7 linked regions of the Homo sapiens genome follow. The protein of the gene in region 3 purifies or fractionates together with the protein of the main gene of each other region. This does not show direct contact. Each region holds a gene or a part of one and is shown on either strand. Other genes may lie near its edges.

Region 1 (3,500 bases), about 75 Mb from region 3:
GTTTAGTAGCAGAACATTTCCCATCCCCAGAAAGGTCATTTACAATAGTGTAAGGCAGCTACTTCTCACCTCGCATTTCAGGTTTCTCTGAGAACAGCAGAGAGCTCAAACATTCATCCATATGCATTGGAAACAGCATTCTGATCTGGCATTTGCATACAAATACCAAAGCAACTTAAGGAACTATGAGGCAGCTCTCCATCATATGACACTACCCCCTTTTATTTTTTCAATGCCTTCCCAGCATCTTCATATCAAAAGCCATTTTCATGTACCTTCCCAGCTTTATTCATTATAAGTTTCCCCTTTCTTGAGCTTATTTGGAATGGGGGATGGAGGAGGAATCTTTACTTCCTCACTTTTACTCTCTGTGGCCCTAAAAAGCTAATGTATTTCACAAATCACTCAGATCTCAAACCTGGAGACGTTCTAAACTCAACTCATCCAAGACTGGACTCTTCTTATCCTACCACATTGCTGAGAAATGGCCATATATTATAGTATTACTTGAATAATATCAGTGTGTGGTTATTTATGCTTACCAAGGCCCTATTCTATTGTGAGGTACTTTTTTGCTACAATTTCTTCATACCAAGCCAAGATCCACTTCCTTGTACTTTCTCACTCATTGGTTCAAATTTTGCCCTGAAATGTTCTTATCTGAGGCATCTCATCTATTCATACAGTTTTAAGTACCTTTAATATGCTGGTGATGTTTAATCTCAAATTTATTATCTAGTCCAGGTCTTTCTCTTGAGCTTCAGACCCAGAAATCCAATTGTCTACTTGCAAGTCTCACTGTGAAACTAGATGTCTCACTGTCTTCTCAAACTAATCAGTTTTCAGTCTGTTTCCGCTTTTAGTGATGCGCCCCATTATGCATCCATTTTCATGGCAAAATTCTGGGAGTTGTCCTTGACATCACCTTCTCCATCTGCACCCAATCATAGTAAGTAAGTGCAATGCAATCTTTCTCTATTACGTATCTTAAATCCATCTAATTCTCTCCATCTCTACTGATGCCACCATCCTGGAGCACACCATGACCTCCTAATTATCTCCCAACTTTCATTCTTTTTCATTACATGCCTGGCTCTCTAACCCCATCCTACACAGCAGCCAGATTAAACTTCTAGAAAAACAAATCTGATCATGTTTCCCTTTTCCTTAATGGCTTTCCATTCATCTTTGGATAGAGTCCAAACTCCTTGTGGTCAACAAGGCTTGATATGATCTGGTCCCTGAATACTTCTCCAGTCTTTTTTTCCCCCAACATTTTATTATGAAAATTCAAACAGACTGCAAAGTGGAAAAAAAATTACAGTGATTATCCATAGACCCACCACCTCAATTTAGTTATTAACTTTTTTTTTGAGATGGAGTCTCGCTCTGTCACCAGACTGGAGTGCGGTGTCGCGACCTCGGCTCACTGCAACCTCTGCCTCCTGGGTTCATGCGATTTCCTGCCTCAGCCTCCTGAGTAGCTGGGATTACAGGCATACACCACCATGGCTGGCCAGTGACTAACATTTTATACTTGCTTTATCATATGTCTATCCATTTACCCATCCCTCTCTCTTAGCATTAATCTTTCTTGCTTCTGGTACATTTCAAAATGAACTGCAGACTCCATTCTCATTTTTATCACTCTTCTCCCTGTTCCTAGCCATAGTCATCTTTCCATTCCTTGAATCAGTTAGGCTATTTTATCTCTCTGGGCTTTTGTACCTATTGTCCCTTCTACCTAAAATGCTTTCAGGTCTTGTTAATTGCAAATTCATCCTTTAGTTCTCAGTTTCAGCTGTCTGAGAGGCTGTCCTTGAACTCCCGATCTAAATTAGATCCACCTTTCCACCTTATGACCCCAAGGCATCTTGTGCCTTTCCTAAATATCACTTATCACAATTGGTAACTATATATTTATTTGCAAAATTATTTGTCTCATACTATCTCCTTTGCTAGATTGAAAGATCCCTGAGGACAGAGACCACGTCTGTATTGGAACATCCCGTATCACCTCTGCAAAACGTCAGTATTTGTTGAAGGAATTAAAGGCAGAATGAATCAATAATTGAAAGGAGCTACTTGGAATAGTAAACTTGTTCTTCCTTTAATATGTATAAACAAGACAGTTTTTTAAAAAGGCTTCTGAGGGAAGGTGGAACCCACTTGTTGCCAGAATATAACCAGGAAGTACATTAAGTAACAATAACAGCTATAATGAATTAAGGGTGGGCTTTGTATTAGGCATATCCCGAGTGCTTGAGTGCTTTCTCTGCATCAAATAATTTTTCTTTGGCATAGGTTCTATTGTTATTCCCACTTTCCAGCTAAGGAAACTGAGAACAGAGCAGTTATTTTAAAACACCCCATCTATGTAGAATATTTGGTCTATCTGTGGCCCCATTTGAAAGTAGGAAGATTAATCTAGAAAACTCACAGACTGCTATAATGGAGATAGGGTTTTACTTGGCTGTAACAGAAGCCTAAAAATATAGCAGGAAACCCACATATAGAGAGATTTGAGAGATGAATCCCTGGTTAGGAAACCTGGGGTTCCATATCTGAAAAAAAAAATCAAACCATTGTGTTGACTTTATTTTTGTGGGAAATTTCAACCCTACCCAAGGCCCTTCCTCTATATAACCCCATACACACACTTCAAATTTTCCCTGCAAAGGATTTTATGCCTGATGGAAATATAGCTTATACACTGAGATAAAACCATTGCAATCTTTCCCAGAATAAGAGCTGATGGTTAAAGGAAAATGAAGTAGTGCAGAATTTCCTAGTGGGAGAACCTGGCCTTCAGACACTGGCTTGAGTTTGAAGACAAGGTTTTCCATTGAATGTGTGACTTTTGGCAAATTAGTAACATCTTCAGACCTCAGTTGCATCAGTTTCCTTCTTTGAAAATGGAAATGACAACATCCATTTAACAGGGTTTAGATATATTGAAATGCTATACATAAAGAGCTCAGCACAGTGCTTGGAACATAGAAGATGCTCAAAGATGTTAACTTTAAAAGAGGAGGAAAGGTAGGGGAGGGTGGTAATTTTCATGCTCAGAATTAAAAAAAAGTCCTAGGAAATTTATTTATTAAATGCACACCATGCATTCTTTTGAGAAAGACAGAGAGAGAGAAAGAGACTGAGAGAGGGGAGCTTGGGTGAAAGTGTCCTTTAGCATTTGCATTGCTCTTAGCTGGATGAACTTGCCTGCAGTCACCACTTACAATGCAAATTGAGTTTAGAGTCCTTCACACTAACTACACAGCAAAAACCTTTCAGCTTTAAATAGAACACTGCAATGTGGAATGATCTGAGCAAACAGAAGAAAAATTCAGAAATACATGTGAAGGAGATATTTTGGAGGAAAAAAAAGAACAATCTGACATAACTGAGCAGGTAGGAGGAAAATGTAGAAATAGTAAAGGAAACAGAAAAGCAAGATCTATGGAAGGACTAGAAGCTAATTCCCCACCCAGTAAGAGGGTATA
Region 2 (3,500 bases), on a different chromosome or scaffold from region 3:
CGCCCGGCTAATTTTTGTATTTTTAGTGGAGACGGGGTTTCACCATGTTGGCCAGGCTAGTCTTGAACTCCTGACCTCGTGATCTGCCCGCCTCAGTCTCCCAAAGTGTTGGGATTGCAGGCGTGAGCCACCACACCTGGATTTTTTATTTATTTATTTTTTTTATACAGAGTCTCGCTCTGTCGCCCAGGCTGGTGTGCAGTGGCGCGATCTAGGCTCACTGCAACCTTTGCCTCCTGGATTCAAATGATTCTCCCACCTCAGTCTCCCAGGAAGCTGGGATTATAGGCAGGTGCCACCATGCCTGGCTAATTTCTGTATTTTTACTAGAGACGGGGTTTCACCATGTTGGCCAGGCTGTTCTCAAACTTCTGACCTCAAGTGATCCGCCTGCCTCGGCCTCCCAAAGTGCTGAGATTATAGGTATGAGCCACCATGACCTTACTATTTTTTTTTTTTTTTTGAGACAGGGTCTTGCTCTGTTGCCCAGGCTAGAGTGCAGTGGCATGATCACAGCTCACTGTAGTCTCAACCTCCTGGGCTAAGGTGATCCCACCTCAGCCTCCCGAGTAGCTGAAACCACAGGCATGTGTCAACATGCCCAAATAATTTTTAACAATTTTTTGTAGAGGTGGGGTCTCACCGTGTTGCCCAGGCTGATCTCAAACTCCTGGGCTCAACTGATCCTCCTGCCTCAGCCTCCCAAAGTGCTAGGACTACAGGCATGAGCCACCATGCCTGGCCTGAAATCACTATTTTTGAATATGGAAAAACATATTGATAGACACTGTACAGCGCAGTGTAAAACCTCTGGGTGTGAGAGCAGGTAGGCAAGTGTCTAAAAAGATGAGACTGGAGGGGAGCTAATTCCCCAGAGAAATTCTATACTTCAAGGTGATATGATCCATAGGGCAATTGTTAAAGCTGCAAAGCCCCATGGGACATCAGTAGTCACACTTTCTTACTTTTACATAAAGTGCTCTGCAAACAGTTTCAAGTTCTTCCTTGCAACCAACCACATTGCTCTGCATTAGCCTACTCCCATTTGGAAAGAGAGAAGCAGTCATGGGACCAGATGCTGAGGGAGCTGGGAATGTAGTCAAAACGGGTACCTTTCAAAATGTATATTATTCCATCAGCCCAGTGGCCAGTTCTTCCCCACAGACTCACTCTCCAGGTGTGAGAACCTGGCCACACACTGGCAGTAACAAGGCTGAAATGGGCCTTCCATAACATACTACCAAGTGTAGACCTTATTCGACTGAGTCCTGGCTCTGCTACCTACTAGGTGTGTGGTATAAAACAGACACAATCACAGTATCCCATTGAGCTGTCTCAGGAATCAAATCAGATCTGCCACGGCAACAGTCAGCAAACGTTTCCTGTACAGGCCCAGATAGTAAATATTTTTGGCCCGTGGGCCACATAAGTCTCTTTTACAACTACTCAACTCTGCAAGAAAACAGCCATGGACTATATGTATGTGAAAGGGTGCTGCTGCATTCCAATAAAACTTTATTTACAATAGCAGGCAGTGGGCCACACTGCTTTGGGAAAGGGGAAGACCTCTACAAATATTATCTTCTAAGGACTCCCATGTTGAAATGTAGTCATCTGTTTATGTCTGCTTTCTCACCATACTATGAAGTTTCTAAAGGCAGATAATATATTCCCTTTTTTTCAGATTAAAACAAAAAGAAACTGGGCATGGTGACTCATGCCTGTAATCCCAGCATTTTGGGAGGCCAAGGCAGGCAGATCACTTGAGGTCAGGAGTTCGAAACCAGCCTGGCCAACATATGAAACCCCATCCCTACTAAAAATACAAAAATTAGCCAGGTGTGGTGGCACACACCTGTAATCCCAGCTACTTAGGAGGCTGAGGCAGGAGAATCACTGGAACCCAGGAGGCAGAGGCTGTAGTGAGCTGAGATCGCACCACTGCACTCCAGCCTGGGTGAGAGAACAAGACTCTATCTAAAAACAAAAAAACAAACAAAAAGAATAAGTATAGTCCAGTATGGCATACAAGGAAGTCCACAGGAGTTTTCACAACTGTACAAGTTAATACTAAAGTAGAATTCTAAGTACAAATGCTGACAGGCCTAGGAGTGACAGACACAATGAGAGAAGCCAGTCATTAGACAGGCCCACCTCCCTCTTAAAGGGCAAAGTCTCCACTTAACTCGGGTGGTGGGACAATTGTTGCCATGCAGAATTCTGATTTGGTGTTAACAGACTTTATTGATATTTTCAAGAAAATACCACAATCAGGTATTTATAAGAAATCTGCTCATTTTTCAATGTTGACAACTAATTCAAAAATTTAAAAAACAAAACATTATGAGCCAAATAAACATGCATGTGGGCTGTTTCAGCCCACTTGTGCAAGCTCTGATATAAAGAATTCATTTCCAGCCAGGCATAGTGGCTCATGCCTGTAATCTTAGCAACTTGGGAGGCCAAGGTGGGAGGATCACTTGAGCTCAGGAGATGGAGACCAGCCTGGACAACATAGCAAGACCCCCATCTCCACAAAAAATAAAAAATTAGCTGGGCATGGTGGCACACACCTGTAGTCCCAGCTACTTGGACAGCTGACATGGGACGATCGCTTGAGCCAGGAGATGGACGCACCAGTGAGTTATCTCACCATTGCACTCCAGCCTGGGCAACAGAGCAAGACTCTGTCTCAAAAAAAAAAAAAAAAAAATCCACACCTGTAACCGTAGCACTTTAGGAGGCCAAGGGGTAGGGTTGGATCACCTAAGGTCAGGAGTTCGAGACCAGCCTGGGCAACATGGTGAAACCCCGTCTGTACTAAAAATGCAAAAATTAGTTGGGCGTGGTGGCATGTGCCTGTAATCCCAGCTACCCAGGAGGCTGAGGCAGCAGAATCACTGGAACTCGGGAGGCGGAGGATGCAGTAAGCCAAGATCGCGCCACTGTACTCCAGCCTGGGCTACAAAGTGAGACTCCACCTCAAAAAAAAAAAAAAAAATCAACTTCACAGAAAAATGTCAAGAATAGTACAATGAATTCCCATATCGCCTTCACCTGGATTCAATCTTACTCATTTTGGCATCTCTGAATTCCAATGCACGGAAGGCACTGAAATGTTGAATCATGGAATGAATCTCATAAGGAAAAATAAGCAAAACATTATGGGCCGACTTCCTATAAGTTAAAGTGACAGGAGGAACGAACTCTGAAAAAATCTGAGAGAAAAGAAACTAATCAGATAGAAGGATTGGAACAAGAAGAAAACAGAACAGACACAAAGAGTCTATGGGATGTATGTTTATTTCACCTGCTGAATGCTTGCTTTGTTTTATTGCATTTGATTGTTATTTTATTATTTTTTTTGCTGGGTTTAAGTAGTAAGAGAAACAGACAAATCACCAAGAAGCCAGGTAAATACCACACAAGGACAGGAGAGACCAGCTAAACCGATGGTGTACTCTCAGCAAAACCTTCCTAATTCAACCATCACCTGTTTG
Region 3 (2,933 bases):
CATGCCTGTCCCAGCTGAAGACCTGCTGGTGCCTGCTTTCACATCTTTCTTCAACAACTTTAGTGTTCTGCATTCCGAAGACTAATCTAAGCTTCATGTCTTCCTTTCATCCCTTGGGCAGATGGAAAAAAGAAAGTAACTCTTTCTGCATCTTGTAAAATTAGCTTATGTTGTAATTTATGCTGGCGAAGGCAAACTGGAGAGGAGAGGGGAGAGAAAAGAAAATCAGGCCAGGCACAGTGGCTCACACTTATAATCCCAGCATTTTGAGAGGCCAGGGCGGGCAGATTGCTTGAGCCCAGGAGTTCGAAACTAGCGGGGCAACATGGTGAGACCCAGTCTCTACAAAAAATATACAAAAATTAGCCAGGCGTGATGGTGTGCACCTGTAGTCCCAGCTACTCAGAAGGCTGAGGCAAGCAGATCAGTTGAACCTGGGAGGTCAAGGCTGCAGTGAGCCGAGATCATGCCACTGTGCTCCAACCTGGGTGACAGAACAAGGCCCTATCTCAAAAAAAAAAAAAAAAAGCAAAAGTTAGAGTCCATTACAATCATTTGAATGGTTCCTTGGTGGATACAAAGACAAAACATACTGATTTTCAAGAACATAATTAGTTTGAGGAGATAAATAATACCATTTGGGTGTGTGTATGTGTTTTTGTTTTTGTTTTCTTTAAAGACAGAGTCTCACTCTGTTGCCCAGTTTGGAGTGCAGTGACGTGATCTCAGCTCACTGCAATCTCTGCCTCCCGGACTCAAGCAATCCTCTTGCGTCGGCCTCCAAAGCTGGGACTACAGACATGTGCCACCACACCTGGCTAATTTTTTTGTATTTTTTGTAGAGATGGGGTTTCACCATGTTGGCCAGGCTGGTCTTGAATGCCTGAGCTCAAGTGATCCTGCCTCGGCCTCCCAAAGTGCTTGGATTACAGGCGTGAGCCACCTGTAATCGTGGCTGGCCAATATTTGGGAATTTTTAAAGGTTTTTTGCTGAATATATATTTTTACAAACAAATTTACAGGTATATTTTATTGTGGTGGTTTGATTCATTTAATTAAGAACAAAATATTTTATAGTCTTTGAGAGCTAAACATGTTCCTGATTTTATCATCGTGTAAACAGACATATAGTAGCCAGTAAATGGAAAGAAGCAATAGAAAGCCGTATAAGAGGTTTGAGATGAAATATAAAATATATATTGTTAAGCTTTTCTATAGTTTTTTTTTTCCACATAAGATTTTGACTGAAATACACAGGGACAGCTGAAATATTAAAGTTTGAAAAATTGTGTATTTTGTGTGAGCTGTTAGCTTGTTTTTCAGCCCTGGCTAAGATAAATCATCTCTTGAGAAAGATTGCATCTTTTATTATTTTCATACTAACATTATTATTATTTTTTAATGGATTACATTCAAGGCAGAAGAGTAAATGGCCCAGAGAGACTTATCTTTGGAAATAAATGTTAACAGACAGTAAAGTTTTCTGTGGATCTGTAGATTTTTTTTTTTTTTTTTTGAGACAGAGTTTCTTGTTGCCCAGGCTGGAGTGCAATGGCATGATCTCGGCTCACTGCAACTTCCGCCTCCTGGGTTCAAGGGATTCTCCTGCCTCAGCCTCCCGAGTAGCTGGGATTACAGGCGTGTGCCACCACGCCTGGCTAATTTTGTATTTTTAATAGAGATGGGGTTTCTCCATGTTGGTCAGGCTTGTCTCGAACTCCCAACCTCAGGTGATCCACCCGCCTCGGCTTCCCAAAGTACTGGGATTACAGGCATGAGCCACTGCACCTGGCCAGATCTGTAGATGTTTAACCCTTCTGTTGAAACAGCTGGTGGCATGGAGACAGCAGCTTTCTTTCAAAGCTGAAAGGATTTCCAAGCCAGTTTATGGTACCTTCCTTGGGTTTAGTAAATCTCAGCTTCACAGTAAAATTCCCTGGCCTGCTTAGGTTTGAACATGGCTAGATCTGTCTTTTCAGAGACAGAGCTTGTTATTATCAGTTACTGAAACCTACAATGTTTTCCTTAATCCTAATAGGTTACATATGTAGCGTGCCAATTTGCTTCTGCTCAGTTGTTTTTATAATCAAACTTTTATCCGGCATTTCATTAGTGCCTCTTACCTGGGGCAGTCTTTTTAATGAACATTATTAAGCAGCCCCTTCATCACCATGCTTGCTGTGCTGCAGGCTTCAGAGGGAGTGTAATCAATTCACCTGGTTGCAGATGACAAGAGTGGCTTTCTTTTTATTGGGTGTTGATACTTTAGGGTCCCTATTATGAATGTTTTATGAGCAAAGGTTTGATTCATGTCTGTCAATGTAAGAATGGTTTAATAGTTGATGCCAGGTTCAGATACCGAAGGGAGTTTATATAAAAAAAGCAAACTGCCACCTACTAATAACCTTTAAAAAGTAATATTTCTCAGTCATTTTTCGTTATACATTTGAGGTTGTCAATGAGAAGGAAACTAAAATTTCTACTTAAAAGTTTCTTCTGCAAGCAGTTTAAAGTTATTGTTTTTCCTATTGTAGCAAAAAATAAAGACCTACATTTGAAGGTATCTATTTTATTAATAAAATGTACTGAAGCTGGCCGGGTGTGGTGGCTCACGCCTGTAATCGCAGCACTTTGGGAGGCTGAGGTGGGCGGATCACCTGAGGTCAGGAGTTCAAAACTGGCCTGGCCAACATGGCGAAACCCCGTCTCTTCTACAAATACAAAAATTAGCCAAGTGTGGTAGCGCACTCCTGTAATACCAGCTGCTAGGGAGGCTGAGGCAGGAGAATTGCTTGAACCCAGAGGGCGGAGATTGCAGTGAACTGAGATCGTGCCACTGCACTGCACTCCAGCCTGGGTGACAGAGCGAGACTCCATCTCAAAAATAATAATAATAATAAATAAGATAAAATGTACTGAAGCCTATTCAATAA
Region 4 (2,607 bases), on a different chromosome or scaffold from region 3:
TTGGAGCTGGCAGACTAGAATGGCTGAGTCGACCTAACCACAGAAATGGCAGCTGCCCCTCCCCCCAGGAACTTGTCCATCTCAGGCAGTCTCCAGCCTGTTGCACTGGTTGGCTGGATTTCCAATCCAGTGAGGCTTAACTTGTGAGATGCCATGGAAGTGGGGCCCGCAGAACAACACCGCTTGGCTCCCTGGATTCAGCTCCCTTCCTTGGAGAATTTATGGATGGATCTCCTGCCTTACCGGGATTCCTGGGGCTAGAGTCTATTAAACTCCTGGGTCTCTGTGTGAGCCTGAGCAACTGCTCTGCCAAGACTCTGCACAGCTCTGTGTATTGGACCCAAGGCCCTGGTGGTGTGGGCTCACGAGGGTATCTCCTGATCCACAGGCTGCAAAGATCCGTGAGAGAAACGTGGTTTCCCAGGTGGGGGTCACACAATCACTCACTGCTTCCCGTGGCTGGGAGTGGGGGTTTCTTTGGCTCCATGCCACTCCCAGGTGGGCAGTCACTCCATCCTGATTTCCTTAGTTCTTTCTCCATGGGTCGAGTTGTCCGCCTAGTCAGTCCCAATGTGAAAACCTGGATATTTCAGTTGAAGGTGCTGAATTCACTTGCCATTTTCATTCCTCTGGGAGAACTGCAGACCACAGCTGCTTCTAATCAGTCATCTTTGCCAAAATATCTGTTTAGTTTGTTACCAACTTCCTTCAGAAAATTCCATATGGAAACCCAACACCTACAAATACACTTTTGAAAAGATAACAGGACAAATTGTTTGCATTTTATAATTTCCTATGTTTAATTTTGTCTATTGTTATAATTTAATACTTCTGAAAAATTTTTTTAATTGACTAATGAAAGCAGCTCTCAGGTGTGGTTAATCTTATAATTGCATAAATAAGGAAAACCAGTTATGTTTGTAAATAAATATTAAAGGACTGATGTTTATACACTTATTTTGTATATGGATCATAATGAAAATTAAATTTAGCATATGATAATATAAATAGGAAAAATCACTTACTCAAAATTTGCATTTGTACTATAAATCCATGTCTTCGTATGATTTTTAAACTCTTAAAGATTATAGTAATCTTTTCAATAAGGACTTTATAAAAGTTTAAAAATGGAACAGAGAAATTGAATTCAAATTATTAAGTTACTAAATACATTCTTATATAGGCACAAGGTGGCTTATATTTATACTTTCAAAAAGACTTTGGAGTTGTCACTTAACTGTTCTACTTTATAAAGATTTGATGTTAATGTTTTTTTTTCACCAAAAATTTAGATATAGTGTTTGTAGCTATTTCTTGGTGAACAGTTATTTTTATTTTAAATTGGAAAAATAATCCTCATCAGTCAGGAGAAAACAAAATAATGATTCATGAAGAAATATGTTGATTTTTTCTTTCAGACCTGAAGATTATCGGCTATAAGAGAATAAGAATTGCAGAAAATAACAGTGAAGTGATTGAAACTTTCTTCTGATGAGTTTCTCTAACCTACAGGATGGAGTAAAACAACTGCTACAGTTCAGCACCTGTTTTATGTGCCGAATCACTGTGGGGAAAGGTCAGGAAGGTATAGTCCTTCAATAGGAAATTGTAATTAAAATATAATTTTATAGAACCATTTTTATGTAATCTGATTTGAATGTTATAGTTGATAATAATAAAATCACTTACTTGGTTGACTATTTAGTGTTGCATTTAATGATAAAAAACAGACCCTGTGTATAGAATTGCAGTTACACATTCCAAAAATGCCTCTCCATGCAGATTTTCTCAAGTTTGCAGGTCACTATTCTTGTCCCTTGTGAACAAGCTCTACCTTCACTTTTCATTTCAGTGGCTTTTTTTATCTAACTTGTCATCCATCTAAATTCATATTTGCAGCTTAGTAGGGTAAAGTTTGCCCTGAAATATTTATAAACTGCTATCTTTTTCTGTGTCCCATATAGCCTCTTGGCCCCACAATGACACCAGAATACATAATGCCTGTCTGCTCGTTAGAAATCCCTCTTCCCTGCCAGTGATTCTGTTTGTAGACTCTCCACACTGTTTTCCCATATCTGTCCTGTTGGCTTCCATTCATCTCTGTACTGGCACTTAGATTGGGGTGCTGGGATGACTATTGCTTGTAAAATATGCTCTCTAGAAATTAAGATACTGAGCCACTGCATTTGAGCATTTTCATGGTGGTATTTTTTCATCTCTTGCCATAGCCAATCAAGGAATGAATTTCAGACCAACTTTCCCATTCATTCAGCAAACATATATTCAGTACTGCTATATACCAGGCACAGTGCTAGGTCCTGGGAAAACAGAAATCATACAAGTTGCCCCCAACACTTCCGTGCCCCATCAAAGAGTCTATTGTAGGATGGGAAGGAAGTATAGATAGATCTGTAAACAAGTAAAACTGGTTGTCAAATGTGCTAATACAACTGTGTGAATTATGATGTAAACATGTTTATTTAATAACTGCATTAAATATGACATAAGCACCTACTATGTGCCAGGCACAACCACTTTATATGAATTATTTAATTAATACATACTGTAATGGAGGTACTGTTATCCTCCCAATTTAAAGGGGACACA
Region 5 (3,005 bases), on a different chromosome or scaffold from region 3:
TCTTTCACTTCCTATTTTTTTCTAGCTCCCAGCTCTCCCCACTGCCCTCATCTGTTTCATTTGTTTCAGGTTCTAGTGATGCATTTTGCTGCGTCTCTCCAATTCTCATCCATGTAAGGAGGGAGGAAACAGTGTGAGTACAGTCTGAATACCTCAGTCTCCAGCCTATACCTCAGAAAAGGTGTGATAAGAGTGTGGCTTGTATAGGGCAGGTGGTACAGAGAGGGAATATGGGAAAGTCCAGGGAAGGAGAATGGAGTGGCTGAGAGCTCAGGACTCAGGTAGTGGGCTTCCCTGTCCAAGAAGATGGATGCCTTTCAAGGGGTCCCAGTCAAATGCAAAGCTCCCCTTCCTCACCATCCTGCTGAAGCTAGTCTTGATAAGTCCAGGTGCTAGGCAGTTCACCCTAATGTTCCTTGGGGCCAGCTCTATGGCCAGGGTCTTGGTCAGGCCCAGCAAGGCTGTTTTACTGACATTGTAAGGACTGAAGCCCTGGAGAAAGAAGAGAATGTGTTAGACTCATAGTTTCCAGGTCATTCTTGGTTCTAATAACTAGACATAGAGGGCAGTGCTCAATAGGGATCTCCTGTAAGGGAGGGGCAGAGTTAGGGAACTGTCTTGTGGCTAAACCTCCCCTAGGTTGTGGTTTGTGGAGGCAAGGCATCTATTTTGTGGGCAGGGACTTGGTGGTGTGATTCTACAAGGGGACACAAACTTCCTTGGGTAATAGGAGGGGTGGAAAGATGTGGAGTGGAGGGTGGGATGGAAGAGGTAGACAAAAGGGTTCTTACAGGAGATGGACTGAAGGCTGCTATGGAAGACACGATCACCACTGAGCCGCCTCTGGAAAAAGAAGAGAGCTGACCATCTTCCCATTGTGGACCAGTGCCCTCAGCCCGTGTGGTGTCCCCTCTCACCCAGGCTCTCTCTCACTCTCTGTACCCTCGTTTCTCCATTTCTGGCACCACTGCCTTTGTCATCAGGGCTGGGGCCTTCACATTAATGTCCAGAGTCTGAAGCCAAGAGAAGAAGGGGAAACAGCATGAGTGAAGAGCACTGGAGGAGGCATGAAAAAATGAGGAGTTAGAGTGGGTTCCTAGGATGTTTGTCAGAGCTGACGAAGATCTTAGGATGATATACCTGCATCTTACACATGAAGGAACTGAGGTTCAGGGAGAAGTAGCTCTCACCAGCTGCTCAGCTAGATATTGATACATTAGGTTCAGGTGAGCAAAAATGGAGCCTGGTTCATCTTGTTTCATAATCAGCCAAGTATGATTTGGGCCAGAAGGGGCCTTTGGATTTGAGCTGTGTTTTCTCTGTTTCTTCCAAGTAGGTAGAGCCTGGAATTGTCAGCCTCCTGGACCTGCCCTAGACTACCTGCCCTAGAGTAGGCCATGCTTCTCAGGGAAAATGTGGCCTGACCTTGGATATGTGGGGTTGTTCTAGCACTTCTCTGGCTTCTGGGCTTAGGGAGTGAGATGTTCTTGGCCCTCTAGGAAGGACTGTCTGGCTAGGCATGGTTAGAAAGTGGGATCATGAGGAGTCACCTTCTGGGGAAGCTGGGGGACAGGCTACAATCAGAATCCCCACATCCATAATCTAAAACAAATGTATGACCCTGTTTACACTGTTCTAGACAACTGCTTATATTAAAATATTTCAATCTTACAGAAAAATTGGAGATAGAAGTACAATGAATGTCTAGATATCCTTCACTTAGATTCACCAATTGTTCACATTTTGTCCTATTTGTCCTCTCTGTAGATCTGTACAGTTTTTTAAATGAACCATTGAAACTCAGTTGCAAGTTTTCTGAAAGATTTTATATAATAAAATCAAAAATTACAAAGAACAAAAATAAAAAAATGTAAATTAAAAAAAAAAAACAAACTCAGGGCTGGGCATGGTGGCTCATGCCTGCAATCCCTGCACTTCGGGAGGCCAAGATGGGTGGATCACTTTTAGGTCAGGAGTTCGAGAACAGCCTGGGCAACATGGCAAACCTCGTCTGTACTAAAAATACAAAAATTAGCCAGACGTGGTGGCATGTGTTTGTAATCCAAGCTACTCAGGAGGATGAGACAGCAGAATAGCTTGAACCCGGGAGGTGGAGGTTGCAGTGAGCTGAGATAGCACCACTGCACTCCAGCCTGGGTAACAGAGTGAGGCTCCATCACAAAAATAAATAAATAACCTAAAATAAAATAAGTAAACTCAGTTGCAGATAGTACAATGTTCTATCCCCAAATACTTAGCATACATTTCCAAAGAGTAAGGATTTTCTTTTACACAACCATAATCTGTTATCACAACCAAGAGTTTGACAATGATGATAATTTTATCTAACATATTGGCCTCAATTATCCCCCAAATGTGTGTGTGTGTTTTTTAAAGTCCAGAGTTCAATCAAGGATCAGCCATTATGTTTGGATTTGTCATACTGTGATAGTTTAAAAAATATACAAATTAAAAGAAAAGTTATAGACACATATTTTCTTATGCTTTGCAGATATTGTGTTTTTTTTTTTTTTTTTTTTTTTTTTTTTTTTTTACAAATTGCAGTTTCGTGGCAACCCTGCATTAATTCGAGCCATTTTTCCAATTGCATGTGCTCACTTTGTCTCTGGGTCACATTTTGGTAATTCTTGGAATATTTCAGACCTTTCCATTATTATTGTATCTGTTACGGTGATCTGTGATGAGTGATCTTTCATGGTTTTATTATAATTGTTTTGGGGTACCACAAACCACACCCAGAAAAGAAGGTCAACTTAATCGAAAAATGTTGTGTGTTCTGACTGCTCTGCCCTTCTCTCATCTCTCTCCCTCTCTGTGGGCCTCCATATTCCCTGAGACACATTTACATTGAAATTAGGCCAACTATTAACCCTACAATGGCTTGTAAGTGTTTAAGCAAAAGGAAGAGTCACACATCTTTCACTTTAAATCAAAAGCTAGAAACAATTAAGCTTAGTGAGGAAGGCATGTTGAAAGCTGAGGCA
Region 6 (3,500 bases), about 61 Mb from region 3:
TAATACCATAGATGTAGCTAAAATGAATTTTTTTCTATAATCTTGATTTGAGGTTTACTTACCATTTATAGCCTTTAGATTTGCAGCATTCAGAATATAACGCATGTTTCTCTCTCCATAGCCCGACTTAAATCTCTGCAATGGCTAACGAAGCTTATCCTTGTCCGTGTGACATTGGCCACAGACTTGAGTATGGAGGGCTAGGCCGTGAAGTTCAAGTCGAGCACATCAAGGCTTATGTCACCAAATCCCCCGTTGATGCAGGCAAAGCTGTGATTGTCATTCAAGATATATTTGGCTGGCAGTTGCCCAATACCAGATATATAGCTGACATGATCTCAGGAAATGGATACACGTATGTATAAAGTTGTGTTTCTTTGTTTAAATTCATACAAATTTCAGTGGTTTATTTTGTTCCCTTTAAAAAATAAAACCACAGCGGTCTGACTATACAGTATCTACTGTACATTAGAAACTTCCCTATCTCACTGCCGTGAAGATAGATGGGAAATGTCTTGGGAAATTAAACACCCACCTGGTGCTCCTAACCCCATTCCTGGGTTTCCTGTCCTCCTGGGAGTACCTGGCCTTTAGACTTGCTGGACATTGAGAATTCTTTTCCCGTGTGGGGCCTCAGCCAGACGCAGGCACTGGACATCTGAGGCCAGCCTCACCTGCTGTCAAATGGACCCGTGACTCGGTCCTTCAACAGCTCAGCCTCGTGTCAGATTTCACGGCCCATTTGGACGGCAGGGTGTCCAAGGCTCCTCCTGGTCCATACACGTACGGTCGTGGCCCCCTCTGAATTAGACTGGGGTTCAGAAGTGGCACAGTGAGACCTTGCTCCCCTCCCCAAGTTTACCTCTTTGTCTGGCCAAGTGGCCATGGCCACCTTTGGCCAAGGCTGATACCCGATTGCTTCTTATTTGCCCCGGTGTAAAGCGCAGAGGAGGGCCAGAACCTTCCTTCCTCTCCAGCGTCGGAAAGCATCAACCCAGTGAGCCCTGAGGATGGTGCACGGCTGGATTTCCTTTGTTTTCACAGAAGGAGAAGCTGGAAACCCGAGGATGAGCCTACCTTGTTTTTCTAGGAAGAGAAACTGGCTTAAAGGAATCATGCCCACCCTGGTGGGATGCAGAGTCGGTGCTGAATGAAAAGACCTTCCTTGAAGTTTTCCTTTTTCACGTCCCCATGTGAGGGGACTTAACTTTCTAGGGGCAAGCCCAGTAAAAATAAATAAGTAAATAAATAGCTAGTTTCAGTTGCTCAGCCAGACGCAGTGCTGAGGGCATGACTGGGCTCATTGCCCTTAGTCCTCCTGGCAGCCCCTTGAGGGAGGAGCTGTTATTGCTCTCATTTTGCAGATTAGGAAACCAGGCCATAAAGAGAGCGCTTTGCGGCTGCCCCAGATCACTGGCCCAAGCAGCCGATCAAATGGCATTGCTGTTTCTGTTGTTTCACGGAGGGTCCTTTAGCAGGGGTCAGGACATAAAAGATAAGGAAAGACCCCTGTTTTACAAAGCCCTTTCACAGGTATACAACTTTTTTTGCCCTCGAGAGGATCCTCTGGGGTTAGGCAGTGCAAGTTTGTCAGATGAGAAAATGAGGCTAGAAGCGGTGACATGACTTGTGAAGGCCAAGGCCACACAGCAGCATGGGGTGTACCGAGCCTCGAACTTGGATTTTCTCACTCCAGTTTCAGTGTTCTTCTACCCCTATAGGAGGAGCCCTGTTCCTCCAACCAGGTGGCAATTCTATTTTGGGAAACAGGACTCAACCCCAGCGGCTGGCTCTATCCCTCTGGGTTGACTTGCATGGAAGAGCGACCTGGACTGGGGCCAGGCTTGTTTGTGCTCTGCTGCCCGTCTTAGAACATACCCTCTGGATAGGAAACTGTGCTTCGTCGCCGTCTTGGTGGAGGCTGGGAACATTGCCTGGTCATAGTGACTGGACAAGTTAGCCAGGTGTGCCCTCTGGCCTGAGGCTCATGTGAAAGGCCAGGAGTCTCCCCAGGCTGGCTGAGAGGGGCAGGAGGGGCCCTCAAAGCCACCCACGTCAGGCCCACTCCCCCAGGTGCCTCCACATCCCATGCCAGCCTATCCCATGGGAGTGTGCCCTGTGGATAGCCTCATTGCCAGGGCTGGGTTACCAGCAGGCTGCCAGACGCTGTGCACCTGCGGTTGTGAAACCTAAGAGGGCTTGGCCCGGTGCCAGGTGGCTGCTTTGCTGCGATCAAAATTGGCCTTCACACCCACTACTTTTCCTTTTCTCTGAGCCAGAATCGCCAACGTAGCAAGTTTTTAAATAAATGCAAGCAAAATACTGAGTCAAGCAACTCTGAAACTAAGATCAATTCATGTCCATATTTTGCAGAACCATTGTTCCAGACTTCTTTGTAGGGCAAGAGCCTTGGGACCCCTCTGGCGACTGGTCTATCTTCCCTGAGTGGCTGAAAACAAGAAATGCCCAGAAGATCGATAGGTGAGTTATCCGCAGACGTGGCCATGTGCACGTTGTGGCCCAGGGAGGTGAGAGCTGGGTGGGCTTCACCTTTCAGACACTACTCCTTACCTTGGGGTAGGACTTCTCCATGGCCAATGGAATCCTTCCCCTGGCACAAAGGAGAAAAAATTTTTTTTTGTTTTTGCTCTGTTGGAGCCCAGGCTGGAGAGCAGTGGCATGATCTCGGCTCACTGCAACCTGTGCTTCCCAGGTTCAAGCAATTCTCCTGCCTCAGCCTCCCGAGTAGCTGGGATTACAGGCGCCTGCCACCAGCCCGGCTAATTTTTGTATTTTTAGTAGAGACGGGGTTTCACCATGTTGGCCAGGCTGGTCTCAAGTGCTGGGATTTTTTTTGTAATTAAAATTTTTAGGCCGGGCATGGTGGCTCACACCCGTAATCCCAGCACTTTGGCAGGCTGAGGCTGGCTGATCACTTGAGATCAGGAGTTTGAGACCAGCCTGGCCAACATGGTGAAACCTGCCTCTACTAAAAATACAAAAAACAAACAAACAAACCAAAAACTTAGCTGGGTGTCATGACGCACGCCTGTAGTCCCAGCTACTTGGGAGGCTGAGGCATGAGAATTGCTTGAACCTGGGAGACGGAGATTGCAGTGAGCCAAGATGGCACCACTGCACTCCAGCCTGGGGGACAGAGCGAGACTCCATCTCAAAAAAAAAAGAAATTAATTAATTAAAAATTTTAAAATAAAATAGAGATGGGGTCTCACTATAGGCGTGAGCCACTGCACCCAGCGGGGATAGCATTCTTTATGTGATGATGATCAATATCAAACAATATTTTTATGAGCACCATCTATGAAAATAGAGATTTTAGTGCATCTGTCACCGAGTAGTGTACAGTTTACCTAATATATAGTTTTTTGGCCCTCACACCCTCCCACCCTCCCCCTTCTGAGTCTCCATAGTCCATTATATCACTCTATGTGCCTCTGTGAATCTACTCATAGCTTAGCTTCCACTTATAAGTGAGAACA
Region 7 (3,500 bases), on a different chromosome or scaffold from region 3:
AATGTATTCAGTCAGAGGGTAGAATTAGGTTTCTGGATTATTGTAAAGGAAATTTCTGTATTGGGAGAGGCTTAGACTCAATGAATTAATGAAAGCCATAGTGATTGAAAAGTAGTACTATACAGAAGCATTACAGCAATAACGGTGGCTCTTTTGTGTGATATGGTCAGGTGAAGAACTAGTTGGTTATTAGGATGCCAAATAGTCTCCATATATATACATGCTCTCTCTTTCTTTGTGTGAATTTGTGGCCTTCTATTTATAACTCATCCATAATTCAGTTTGCAAATGATCTTTGTAAAAGTAATAATTTATTTCTATGACATTTACACTTTACTAATGTACACAATGAACAAATCCTCAAAACGACTTCATTGCTGAAGAATTCTAATGAGAATGATTACTTAATAATACTAATATTATAAATAAAGACTAACATTACCATACATATTATATTGATAATTAATGTCTATCAGTGAGATATCATCAACTCCATTACAACTATGCTCATAAGACATCAAACCTGTTAAACCACCAGCCAGACTGATCTTCTTCTGCGCAGTTCCCTTCATAGTTGTCATGATCTCTGTCCCACGTGCTGAATTTCATTCTTTGGTGACTAGCCCACCACTGCACCTCAGGATGAAAATTCCCCGCAAGGGAATCTCCAGCTGTTCCAGAATATTCCCCAATATTCAACTCGTAGAAATTCTAAAGAAAAAGGGCATTTCTGCTGTCAGTGGAGTTCCTCTATGACCATTTTAAAATTAAGTTTATTTCATAAACAAAAGAACAGGTTCTATTGTATATTTTTATTTCCACTGACTCCAGGGTTATATTGCACATTTTAAGCATTTATTCACGGTTTTACTTCTTAGAAAATTGTAGTACCTTTTCATCTCCAACTTTGAAATTCTTATATTGTGCATAACGGCTATTTTTTTCAAAATCTGCAAGGTCGATTTTTAAAGTGTAGTCTTCTAAAAAAGAAACAAGCAATTATAATTTTTAAAAATGTGTGACATGACACGGACTACTGCGGTTTAAAAATAATTCACAGCTCTATTTTAATTTTACCATTTCCCTTGGCCAAGAATCAGTTTTCAAAGATTAAACAGTGACTCCTTTGTATATATAACATGAACATTTTATCGTGTAATTTATTTGAAAAAAAATGATGGATACAATATTAAATTTAAAAAATGTCTACTAGATCTCTTAGAGGTAAAACCTAGTGCAATTCACTGAATAATGAACAACAGAAAAAATAAGTGATTACTTAAAGCAATCTAACAATGAAAGGGTCGACGTTTTACCTTTAATAGTTTGACCTCTTTTTCTTGATTTCAGTAAGAATGTTGATCTTGAATATAAATGGTGGCTATTAATGACATTGTGTAATCTCTAGTAGCTGAGCCACTAGGTTTGTAAAATGTAGTTGCCATTGCCTGCATATGCCTGAACTTGGTTATTTTCCTGATAGCATAAAAGATCAGCCAGGAAACCCTTTAAGAATAATTTGAGGAAGAAATATGAATCCTAATTGTTATCCGAAAACCTTCGTTTGATACTGGCTCATAAGATCAAGAGACTCTTAGCATCAAAGTATGTAGAGTGGATGTCATTGGAAGAGAATTTCAGAGGCAATAAGGAAACATTCTGGAGAAATGCTGTACCACCAACATTCTCAATGGCAGAGATGATGATAATTACTGGAAAATATACTAACATCAATGACTCTGAGTAAAAAGGTATTTCTGAAGAACTGATATCTACATGTGAAAGCATTTTAAGAATGCAATGGGGCCGGGGCGGTGGCTCACGCCTGTAATCCCAGCACTTTGGGAGGCCGAGGCGGGCGGATCACGAGGTCAGGAGATAGAGACCATCCTGGCTAACACTGTGAAACCCCGTCTCTACTAAAAAATACAAAAAATTAGCCGGGCATGGTGGCGGGCACCTGTAGTCCCAGCTACTTGGGAGGCTGAGGCAGGAGAATGGCGTGAACCCAGAAGGCAGAGCTTGCAGTGAGCCGAGATTGCTCCACTGCACTCCAGCCTGGGCGACAGAGCGAGACTCCGTCGCAAAAAACAACAAAAAAACAAAAAAAAGAATACAATGTATTGGGTACATATTATCTTTTATATATGCTAAAGAATGATATATGATGACAAAAAATCTCTAAACATTAAAGATATACTTTAATGACTGTAAAAATTCTAGGCGATATAAGAGCATTATGTTTTTAAAATGATTAAAATAATTGCTACCTTCAAGTAATCTTTTTTTTCCCATTGTTTGGAAATAACAAAGACTATTCCTTTTTCAGAAACAGAACTCTTGTCAGGGGCACCAAATGTTATAAATCAAATTATTAGATCACATGTGTTCTATCCTCCTACTTTGATAAATAAGATATAACAATGACCTGTAAGGTCGGGTTAGAATTTAGAGCCTCACTTTCCTTGGAGTTTCAAGCCAGACCATGGAGGCACTGGGAAAGAGAGTCCCTGAATAGTCCTATCACCTAGGCCCCATCTCTGGTTGGCCTCTTCTCTCTTTCCATCCCCATCTCCATCACTTATAGCAAGGGGCTTTGGATCCACTTGTGGACATCCCAGGCTGCATATCCAAGTTCTATTCACACCCAAGTTGGGTGGATTACAAGGTCAGGAGATCGAGACCATCCTGGCCAACATGGTGAAACCCTGTCTCTATTAAAAATACAAAAATTAGCTGGGCATGGTGGCACGTGCCTGTAATCCCAGCTACTCAGGAGGCTGAGGCAGGAGAATTGCTTGAATCCGGGAGGCAGAGGTTGCAGTGAGCCGAGATCGCGCCACTGCACTCCAGCCTGGCTACAGAGTGAGACTCTGTCTCAAAAAAAAAAAGCCATTTTTTAGCCTCCCCTCAAGCTTAAGGGTGCACACACCAGGACGAGAACATCCTGAAGGAGTCCTATAAACAAACTCAAGGCTGTTGGGGCAGGGAATGCTGGATTCCTCAAGACTGGAGTCCCTTTAAGAGGTGATGCGGGCCTCTCTTGGGCTTGTTGATTTAGCACCACAATTTCCTTGCCCCAGGGAGCTCTCTCAAGGTAGTAAAGGTCACAGGAGAAAAGACTGTAGAGTGTATAAGAGCAGCAAGGCAGGCTAAGTCAACTGTCTTTAAAAATATTCTATTACAGACGAGATGCGGTGGTTCATACCTGTAATTCAAGCACTTTGGGAGGCTAAGGCACGCAGATGACTTGAAGCCAGGAGTTTGAGACCATCCTGGTCAGCATGGTGAGACCACCGTCTCTACTAAAAATACAAAAATTAGCTGGGTGTGGTGGTGTGCGCCTATAATCCCAGCTACTCAGGAGGCTGAGGCATGAGAATTGCTTGAGCCAAGAGTCAGCGGTTTTAGTGAGCCAAGGCTGTGCCACTGCACTCCAGCTTGGGCAACAGGCAAAAATCTGTCTCAAAAAAAAAAACAAAAAAAAAAAACTTCTATTA

The links.
Region 1: the proteins of MCCC2 (region 3) and PPP2R2B purify together in Homo sapiens (co-immunoprecipitation; one large-scale study listed by IntAct). This does not show direct contact.
Region 2: the proteins of MCCC2 (region 3) and KATNIP purify together in Homo sapiens (tandem affinity purification; one large-scale study listed by IntAct). This does not show direct contact.
Region 4: the proteins of MCCC2 (region 3) and MRPL13 purify together in Homo sapiens (co-immunoprecipitation; one large-scale study listed by IntAct). This does not show direct contact.
Region 5: the proteins of MCCC2 (region 3) and DHRS4 purify together in Homo sapiens (co-immunoprecipitation; one large-scale study listed by IntAct). This does not show direct contact.
Region 6: the proteins of MCCC2 (region 3) and CMBL purify together in Homo sapiens (tandem affinity purification; one large-scale study listed by IntAct). This does not show direct contact.
Region 7: the proteins of MCCC2 (region 3) and FGL1 purify together in Homo sapiens (co-immunoprecipitation; one large-scale study listed by IntAct). This does not show direct contact.

The regions. Positions count from the first base shown.
Region 1 is NC_000005.10:146,872,258-146,875,757, forward strand, and holds part of PPP2R2B (serine/threonine-protein phosphatase 2A 55 kDa regulatory subunit B beta isoform), read right to left. Parts: intron 1-3,500. UniProt on the Homo sapiens protein: The B regulatory subunit might modulate substrate selectivity and catalytic activity, and might also direct the localization of the catalytic enzyme to a particular subcellular compartment.
Region 2 is NC_000016.10:27,556,644-27,560,143, reverse strand, and holds part of KATNIP (katanin-interacting protein), read right to left. Parts: intron 1-3,500. UniProt on the Homo sapiens protein: May influence the stability of microtubules (MT), possibly through interaction with the MT-severing katanin complex.
Region 3 is NC_000005.10:71,653,340-71,656,272, forward strand, and holds part of MCCC2 (methylcrotonoyl-CoA carboxylase beta chain, mitochondrial isoform 1 precursor), read left to right. Parts: intron 1-2,933. UniProt on the Homo sapiens protein: Carboxyltransferase subunit of the 3-methylcrotonyl-CoA carboxylase, an enzyme that catalyzes the conversion of 3-methylcrotonyl-CoA to 3-methylglutaconyl-CoA, a critical step for leucine and isovaleric acid catabolism.
Region 4 is NC_000008.11:120,394,937-120,397,543, reverse strand, and holds the end of MRPL13 (large ribosomal subunit protein uL13m), read left to right. Parts: intron 1-1,418; coding exon 1,419-1,440; 3' UTR 1,441-2,107; downstream 2,108-2,607.
Region 5 is NC_000014.9:23,963,770-23,966,774, reverse strand, and holds part of DHRS4 (dehydrogenase/reductase SDR family member 4), read right to left. Parts: intron 2,198-3,005; coding exon of another isoform or gene 2,177-2,197; exon of another isoform or gene 1,014-2,176; coding exon 943-1,013; exon of another isoform or gene 844-942; coding exon 792-843; exon of another isoform or gene 493-791; coding exon 358-492; exon of another isoform or gene 70-357; intron 1-69. UniProt on the Homo sapiens protein: NADPH-dependent oxidoreductase which catalyzes the reduction of a variety of compounds bearing carbonyl groups including ketosteroids, alpha-dicarbonyl compounds, aldehydes, aromatic ketones and quinones.
Region 6 is NC_000005.10:10,287,403-10,290,902, reverse strand, and holds part of CMBL (carboxymethylenebutenolidase homolog), read left to right. Parts: intron 1-121; 5' UTR 122-140; coding exon 141-355; intron 356-2,373; coding exon 2,374-2,481; intron 2,482-3,500. UniProt on the Homo sapiens protein: Cysteine hydrolase. Can convert the prodrug olmesartan medoxomil into its pharmacologically active metabolite olmerstatan, an angiotensin receptor blocker, in liver and intestine. May also activate beta-lactam antibiotics faropenem medoxomil and lenampicillin.
Region 7 is NC_000008.11:17,868,025-17,871,524, forward strand, and holds part of FGL1 (fibrinogen-like protein 1 precursor), read right to left. Parts: intron 981-3,500; coding exon 892-980; intron 712-891; coding exon 524-711; intron 1-523. UniProt on the Homo sapiens protein: Immune suppressive molecule that inhibits antigen-specific T-cell activation by acting as a major ligand of LAG3. Responsible for LAG3 T-cell inhibitory function. Binds LAG3 independently from MHC class II (MHC-II).